Linked DNA regions of Homo sapiens. The protein of the gene in region 1 interacts with the protein of each later gene in a pairwise test. Each region holds a gene or a part of one and is shown on either strand. Other genes may lie near its edges.

Evidence for each region. Proteins that work in one complex are often made in the same cells at the same time.
Region 2: the proteins of PRR20B (region 1) and ROR2 interact in a two-hybrid assay, tested with the Homo sapiens proteins (one large-scale study listed by BioGRID).

What each region holds. Positions count from the first base shown.
Region 1 is NC_000013.11:57,145,679-57,150,600, forward strand, and holds PRR20B (proline-rich protein 20B), read left to right. Parts: upstream 1-1,809; 5' UTR 1,810-2,023; intron 2,024-2,177; 5' UTR 2,178-2,196; coding exon 2,197-2,248; intron 2,249-3,269; coding exon 3,270-3,883; 3' UTR 3,884-4,831; downstream 4,832-4,922.
Region 2 is NC_000009.12:91,751,229-91,754,728, reverse strand, and holds part of ROR2 (tyrosine-protein kinase transmembrane receptor ROR2 isoform 1 precursor), read left to right. Parts: intron 1-3,500. UniProt on the Homo sapiens protein: Tyrosine-protein kinase receptor which may be involved in the early formation of the chondrocytes. It seems to be required for cartilage and growth plate development. Phosphorylates YWHAB, leading to induction of osteogenesis and bone formation.

The DNA.
Region 1 (4,922 bases):
TGGAGAAACCTAATCAACACTGCCCCAGCCCGGTGACCAGGACTAATAGCAGCAGTGATAAGCCGGCTTGATGGTGTGTACTCTAGACAGGATGGGATGGGAATGGCGCTTTCCCGCTGCAATCTTCCTGACAAAAACATATAATTCCAGTCAGATCACAAGGAATACATCACACGAACTTCAGGAGAGGACATCCCACAATATATCTGATCAGTATTCAAAGTGTCAGGGTCATCAAAAACAAGGCAAGTGTGAGAAACCGTCGCAGCCAAGGGGAACCGTGACGAGTTGTAAGGTGGTACCCTGGATGGGGTCTTGGGACAGAAAAGGTATGTGAGGTGAAAGCATAGCAAAACCTCACTTCAACAGGAAATACAACCCAAAAAAATAATTGGCCGGGCATGGTGGCTTGCGCCTGGGGTCCCAGCGACTCGGGAGGTTGAGCGGGACGGACGGCTTGAGCTCAGGCCTTCCAAACAAGCCTGGGCACATAGCGAAACCTCGTCTCTCCAAAAAAATCCGAAAATTATCCCGATGTGGTGGCGCTCACCTGTAGTCCAGCTACTCCGGAGGCCGAGACAGGAGAATCACTTGAACTGATTCTCCTATCTCAGCCCCCCCCCCCCCCCCGCCCCACCCCAAGTAGCCGCAGCGAGCCGAGATGGCACCGCTGCACTCCAGCCTGGGCTACAGAGCGAGAACCCGTCTCTGTAAAAGACACAAGGATGCAAACCAACCAAATAACCCACTGTGGGATCCCCTCCAGCGTCCTGCTGTGTTTCCCGCTGTCTTCCTCCACCCGTGAGTGCACCCACAGCAATAAAAGCCAGCGGTGTGGGTCTCACACGCATCTCCAGCCCCGTCGCCATCGCGCTGAGCTCGACTCTTTTTACAAAAGGCCACTTGACATCCTCACTTGGCAGTTCAAAAGCCCCTTCAACCAGATGTGCGCAAGCCAAGCTCCGCAACTTCCCGTTCAGAGCAGGTTCTCGGTCCACCTCTGCCTGAATGAACCGGCGGGCTACCAAGGCCGCAGTCTCTTCCTCAAGGGCTGTCCACACTGGGTCTCGCTTTCTCTTGGAAATTTCTCTCCCACCAGGGAACTTTCTCCTCCTCTACCTCCCTGAGTCTCAGTCTAACAGCACCCTGCGCCCAACCCCGAGGGCTGCAATAGCCTTCTTGCCTCTCCTGACTTATTCTGCGGACCCTGGGTTGGCGCTCCTTCACAGCCAGGCTGGTCGTTTCTGAAATGTTAACCCGCTGCCGGACACCGTTCCACGGTTTTCCGCTGCCTTGGAACAAGACCAGCTCCTGCGCGGACCCTGCCTCCACCTCGCACCACCTCCGGGCCTGGACTTGGCCTCCCGTCCATTCCCAGAATGTGCCGGGCTCCCTTCCAGTCCGGGCCTCAGCACACTCTCTTCACTCCCCTTCCTCCCTCCCTGCCTCTCCCAACCCGGTTCAGGATGACTAATTTCAAACGTTATGTTCCAGATTTCAGCCCAGATATCCCCGCTTTGGATGCTTTCCTTGACCATGCTCAGATCTAAGCTAATCGCATCTTCCTGTCAGCCGCTTTCAGGGCACCACACCTCATTGTGCTGACACTCAGAGGTCATTATGCAATTTTTTTTCCTCGATGATTAGATTAATCAATCAACCACGGACGTCTAGAAATGGCGGCATCTCAGAAGGGCCCCCATTTGACTGGCAGGGGACTGGCCCAATGCGCCTCGCAAGCCCAGCCAGGCCCGCCCCAGCCGGCCCCCCTCTGACGACGCCTGTCCCTTACGCGACTGCCTTGCTGCCATATAAGAGGGACGGCGCTCGGCCTCCAGCAGTCGGCTTTCTGCTGGGCTCGGAGCCAGAACCTGCTGCGTGCTCCCTCCAGACTCCCTGGCTGCGGGTGGACTACCTCAGAGCTACAGCGGTGAACCTGTGGACACCTCCGACTCCTCGGGCCTCTCTTCGTCGAAGAGTCTCCTAATTTTCAGATCTCCGGAGCCAGCTGTGGGAAGATCAGGTGTGTGTCTGGGGGTCCCGGAGGCGTGGACGGATCTCGGGTGGGTGCAGTTGGGGACAGAATCCTCATTCCCCTAGAAAGGCCACGGCCATCCCCCTGCCTTGTCACCTCTGTCTTCCTAAATCCGTTCTTGCTCTCTTGTTTTTCTCCCCAGCCCCTCCCGCCGATTGCTCATGGAGGAACCAAGGCCTTCGAAGCGACTTCGCTCCATGGCCCCTAATCAAGGTACATCAAACGCCTGCCACTCCTCTCTTTTTAATTTCGTCTGTTCCCCAATTCTTCCCCAATGGTTGACACTCAAACTCAATCAAGCATTCTCTGTTTCACCTTCTCCTAGCCTGCCTCAACCTGGGCTGCTTGTTGGAAGTCAGCTCCCGGGTTCCACATCATCTGGGAAATTCCTTTCCCTCTTCCGAACCGTAATCCCATTTCCCAAATCTGAGATTTGCTGTTGTTGTCGCTGTTTCCTTCTGTTTAGTTTTGTATTACTGTTTCTCCGTAGCAGAGCGAGTCCTCACGCTACGTCTTGATCTATGATAAACCGGTACTTCCACCTTGTTCTTTCCCGGAGGAGTTGGAATTTTCCGGCTGTTGCCACGTTGTTCTCCAAAACATTTCCCTTCATACGCTGAGTGTCCTAAATCTTTTAATCTTGTCTAGTTTGACAGATGCATAACAATAAAGCATCCACTGAAAGGAAATTCTTTAACATCTTGCTTGTCTGAAACATCTTCATTCTCCCCTCCCAGATTCTTCAGCGAAACTTCGGTTGGACAGGAAATTTTAGGTGGGAAATTCATTTCCCTTGAAATTTCGAAGACATTTTCTGTTATGTTCTAGACTGAACTGCTGCTTTTGAGATGTCTGACTTTTGAGACATGTGGAATCCTAGCCCTTTCCATGTGACTTTTCCTTTCTCTGTCTCCCGCTCTCTAGAATCTGTTAGAATCTTCTCTTTTTCCTCAGCACTCTGAAATTTTCTGGTGAAATGTCTCAGCCACAGCATACCTCTAATTCTCTTATATTTCATCCTTCTTTCCATCATTTTAGGTTTTTGCTTTGTTCTGTGGGAGACCTTCTCAACTTCATTCTCCAACTTCCGTGGAGAGTTTTGTTTCTTCTCTCACAATTTTAACTTCAGAAATCCCTCTTTTCTCTGAGTATTTATTTGTAAAAGTATCCTATAACTGCTTGACGGGTGAAGTTCCTTCTGTCTCTCTCTGCTCACGCTCCGCTTCTCTTTTAGCCTCAGGTGGGCCTCCTCCAGAGCCAGGCTGCTGTGTTGCGGACCCTGAAGGCTCCGTGGAAGCAGATGGGCCCGCACAGCCAGCCCAACCCGCAAAACCCATCGCTTACGTGAAACCCTTCAGACGGCAGCCCCCAGCTCGCCCAGAGTCACCCCCTCCTGCAGAGAGAGGCCGGCGCCGGGGAGGAAGCCGGCGGCCAGGGCGAGGCCGTGGCAGAAGGGCTGGGCCCCGCGGGGACGCTGGCCAGAGACAGGGGGCAGAAGGCTTGATGGCACCGGACGTGCACATCCAACTGGACCACCATGGAGAGCCAGGCCACCAGGGGGAACCGGAAATCACGGAGACCGCAGCCTTCTCCCTTTCTGAAACAGGTCCTCCGCCTGGAACTGTGCAGGAAGGCCCTGGCCCCGACGTGGCGCAACCTGAGCTGGGGTTTCAGGAGCCGCCCGCTGCTCCTGGGCCTCAGGCTGTTGACTGGCAACCCGTCTTGACCCTCTATCCCTGCATCGGGTTTAGGGCTCTGGGTGACTCAGCGGTTTTACAAGTCATTCAAACCCCCCAGGGCACCTACGTGCAAGGGGTCCCAGTGTTCCTCACCGACATTGCGTATTGACCACTATCTGCCACCCACGTTGTTCCCAGCCTCCCTTCCTTCCACCTGGACGTTCCCCCCAGCCCCACTTCTGCTCCACTCCTCCCCCGACTGGACCTGAAGCCTGAGCTTCCCCTGAACTTGGAGTACGCAACTTACAACATGCAAGCTGCCAAACACCCTTTCTGTACAAGGCGATTGGAATGGAACTGTCATGTACAGTGAAAGTACACGTCACGTTTTTCAGCCAAGAAGAAGCCAACCCAGACAACCTGGAAGAAGTGGGATGCAACAAGGATCACTAAGCATGGAAATTAGGAAACTGTATTCTTAAGTCCAGAGAAGTACGATTCTGGAAAAAGGATTGATGACCTAGAATTAAAATTCCAGAAGACACTCATATAGACATGTGGGACATGCGAAAACTCAGAAGGAGCTAGAAGTTACTAAAGTGCTTCTCTAGTGCCTGGAGACGATAGACTGGCTGAATATAAGAGCAATAAAAATCTAGACTGACACATTTTTAAGTCTCAACGTGGGTACCCTTTGGGAACCACTAAATGAATTGGAATAGAAGGTAAAATTTCAAACAGATTGAGGAAAAAGGGGATCAAAGGACATGTGACGAATCAGACAAAAGGTGTTGGGGTGGGGGGGGGGGCGGTTAACGGAAGCAAGGAGAGTGCATGACTCACTGGAACCGCTAAACCAGGAATCAGTAATTTGACGGCAGTGTCCTTGGCTTCCTCCTGGCTTTAATGGGAATATTTTGAATGTTTCACCATTAACCAAGATGTTGGCTGTAGGTGTCTCTTAGATGTTTAAGTTGAGTTAGTTCCCATCTTTTCAGAGTTTGATAAATGTTGTATTATGAACTTTTGTATTTTGTATTTTATTAGGTAGGCTGTTGTTGGCTGGTTTTCACTCCTTTGTAAACGTCCAAATAAAATACAGATAACTTTTTACATCAAAGATTTTTCTCTTGTGTACTCAATCCTTCTAAATAAACCTTTCTCTTCAGACTTATTTTATAGAACAGTTCTTTCACTAAACTTTCACA
Region 2 (3,500 bases), on another chromosome or scaffold:
GTCATTTCAAAAGTTGAACTATTGTTCTCTCTTATTTTATATTTATGTCTTTTATTTTAGTTATTTTATTTTTTGAGACAGAGTCTCGCCCTGTCACCCAGGCTGGAGTGCAGTGGTGCAGTCTCCGCTCACTGCAACCTCTGCCTGCCAAGTTCAGGCAATTCTCCTGTCTGAGCCTCGAGTAGCTGAAATTACAGATGCGCACCACCATGCCCGGCTAATGTTTGTATTTTTAGTAGAGACGGGGTTTCACCATGTTGGCCAGACTGGTCTCGAACTCCTGACCTCAAGTGATCCGTCCACCTTGGCCTCCCAAAGTGCTGAGATTACAGGCATGAGCCACTGCACCCGGCCTATATTTATGTATTTTATAAATAAAACTTTTATAGTTCATTTATATATAGTTACATAAATATATTATGTAACTATATAATATATTGTAAATACATAACATATAATTACAGAGCTATAATTATACAAATATTAAACATTCATATATTTATATACAAATTGTAAATATATATATTTATATAAATTATTTCACAATATTTTTACATTGACTTTCTTCTCACTTTAAGTTATGGATTTAATCCACACATTGATGTAAATGACTGGGGCAGTTTCGGAAAGTCCCGCCTGACCTCCCATCCTTCCAGGCCTCCTGCCTCCCTTGTCATAAAGGTAAATCATCCAGGGAGTTTGTAGGCACTCAGTACATACATACATCTACCTAAGGAAATACAAAACAATCAACTTGAAAAAAGGTCTAAAAGCACATAAATTACTCAGTATTATTGAGGCAATGAAGAAATATGCTTACCTATACACTATTGATGAGAAATTTCTGGAGTGCTATTTGACAATAAACACAAAAATATTTTTAAAAAGAAATACCTCTTATCAGTTTTATATACTTTTTTACATAAATGATGCTATACTTGACATGTTTAGTTAACAGTATTCACAGAAATCTTTCCATCTCAGTGTATTTGAGGTTTCCAGATGCTCTCTTTCCCTGTTTCTGGACTCATGTGCAGAGCATGTGACTGTTCCATTGTGACAGGCATTCCCATCAGGGAAGCCTCATCCCAGCCACTCGTGCCACCGCGTCTCCCTTCCCTGGCCCTGAGACCTGTGGCTGGGTTTCTCTAGGAGAGATTCTGAAGAGGAAAAACTAAAGGGGCACAGGCATCCCCTTTTTAAAACTGATACTGCCAAATGGTCATTCGTAGGTTACTTTCCCGACAACGTCAAAGGACCCATTTCTCCTTATCTTCCATAAGATGACTTCCAAACTTGTTAACTTCTGCCACTCTGAAGGATGAAAAATGAATAAATGACCTGCTTTGTTCTCCATTTCCCTGGTTACTAGTGAGGCTGAGCATGTGGACACACATTGCTTGGCACTCATGTCTCCTCTTTGTCAATTGCCACTTCATATTCTTCGCTCATTTTTCCTTTACATTGTTTCTTAATGAATTTTGATAATTCTTTATGTCTTATTTCTTGATCATATAGAAATTAAAACTTTTACAAATTAATAATTTGTTTTTCATGTTATGTCTTGTTAAAGAATGTCATGATTTCCTTGAAAGATTCTGATGGTAGTTTGATTGGAATTACAATGAATTTTTAGGTCAGTTTGGTGAGAATTAATATCTAAATTGAATTTTCTTATCAAGGACTACTTTCCTTTGTGTTTTGAGGTGTTTTCTTTTTCTTAACATTTTATAATGAAAAATTTCAAACATACGGTTGAAAGAATTTTATAGTGGGCTCCTGTATACTCACCAGCTAGATGCTAGCATTTACATTTTACTGTGCTAACTTTATCACTTATCGTTCCATCCAGCCTCCATCTGTCCATCAATCCATCTGATTTTTCATTCATTTCACTGAGTTGCAGATACTTGTACATTTACCCTGAAATACTTCAGCATATATATCATTAATGAGAGTTCAGTATCTGTTTATGATTCTTGCTCCTCCTTCTTCAGTTAAAATTTGCATACCAGTGAAATGCACACATCTTAAGTATAGCACTATAAGGTCTGACAAATGCATAAATCTCTGCAATCGAAACACCCTATCCAGATACAGAATCTCTGTCACGCTTGCAGGCTCTGTCGTGCAACTTCCTAGTCAACTCCCTTCTACCCCAGGCACCCACTATTCTGATTTTTTAAGTAATGGACTAGTTTTTCCTGTTATTAAACATCACAGAAATGAAATCCTTCAGGATGTAGCCACTTAAGCCTGGCGTCCTTTTAGCATAGTGCTTTTGAGATTCATCTGTGTTGTACATGTATCAGTAGGTTACAGCTGTTTATTGCTGAATAGCATTTTATGGTATGAACATACGCGTTGATTTATCCATTCTCCTGTTGAAGGACACCTAAGCAGATTCCAGGCTTGACTACTATGAATAAAGTTCCTTGTATAGGAATACTCTATACTTTTTGTGGACATGCATTTTCATTTCTGTTAGTGTTAACTAGGCGTAGAATTGCTGCATTATAGGGCATGTGTGTGCTTAATTTTATAAGACATTCCTGGGCCTTCTCCTGAACTCTTTTTACCTCCACCCACAGTGTGGGAGACTTGTGATGACTCCACATATTTCCCAACATTGGTGTGGTCAGCCTTTTTAAGTGTAGCTATTCCGGTGTATGCAGTGATTCAAGTGATTTTTTATATCATTCCAGCCTCTTGAAAAAGCAATTTTTACTAGTCATTTTTAAATTTTCAAATAAATGTATTTAAAGCTGTAAAGTTTCCTCTGAATACCATCTCCCTGCTTCCACCACGCATTTAGGCTTCTGTTGTTTGATACTGTTTTCTGATTTTTGTTGCATTATTATTAGTGAATATGGGCTGTTTATGTTTTATTCTTGATAATTTATTGAGATTTTTCTTTGTAACCAGTTAGATACGGTCCATTTTTGTGAATCTTGCCTGTTGTTTCAAAAATACGTGTGCTTTGATGTATCTGCACATTTCTTGACTCATCTGTGAGATTGAGTATTAAGTATGTTATTAAAAATATCTATATATTTTTTATCCACATGAGTACCAGATACCTGAAGATTTGTGAAAGTCACCCACACTCAATCTGGATTTGCTAGTTTCTATTAGTTCTCTATTTTTAATATTTTGTGTGTATTTTAAGGTTATATAGGTTTTTGTGGGGTTTTTTGGTTTCTTTTTACAGTCCCTTTTAGTGCTTTTTGCCTTGAATTCAGTTTTGCCTAACAATAATAGAGTTCCACATGCTTTTTAAATTTGCATTTGCCAGGAACCGTTTTTATGATTCCTGTCCCACTCTTTAGTCTTTCACCTTTTTGTGTTCTGTTTTATGTAGGTCTCTTGTAAATGATGCATAACTAGACTTTTTTTGGGAGGTTGATGTGGAGACCTTTCCAGTCTGAAAGTCCATGTTAATACATAGTTAAATTCATTTTAACTAATATACAGTATTCCATTCTGTGAGTCAGTTTCCA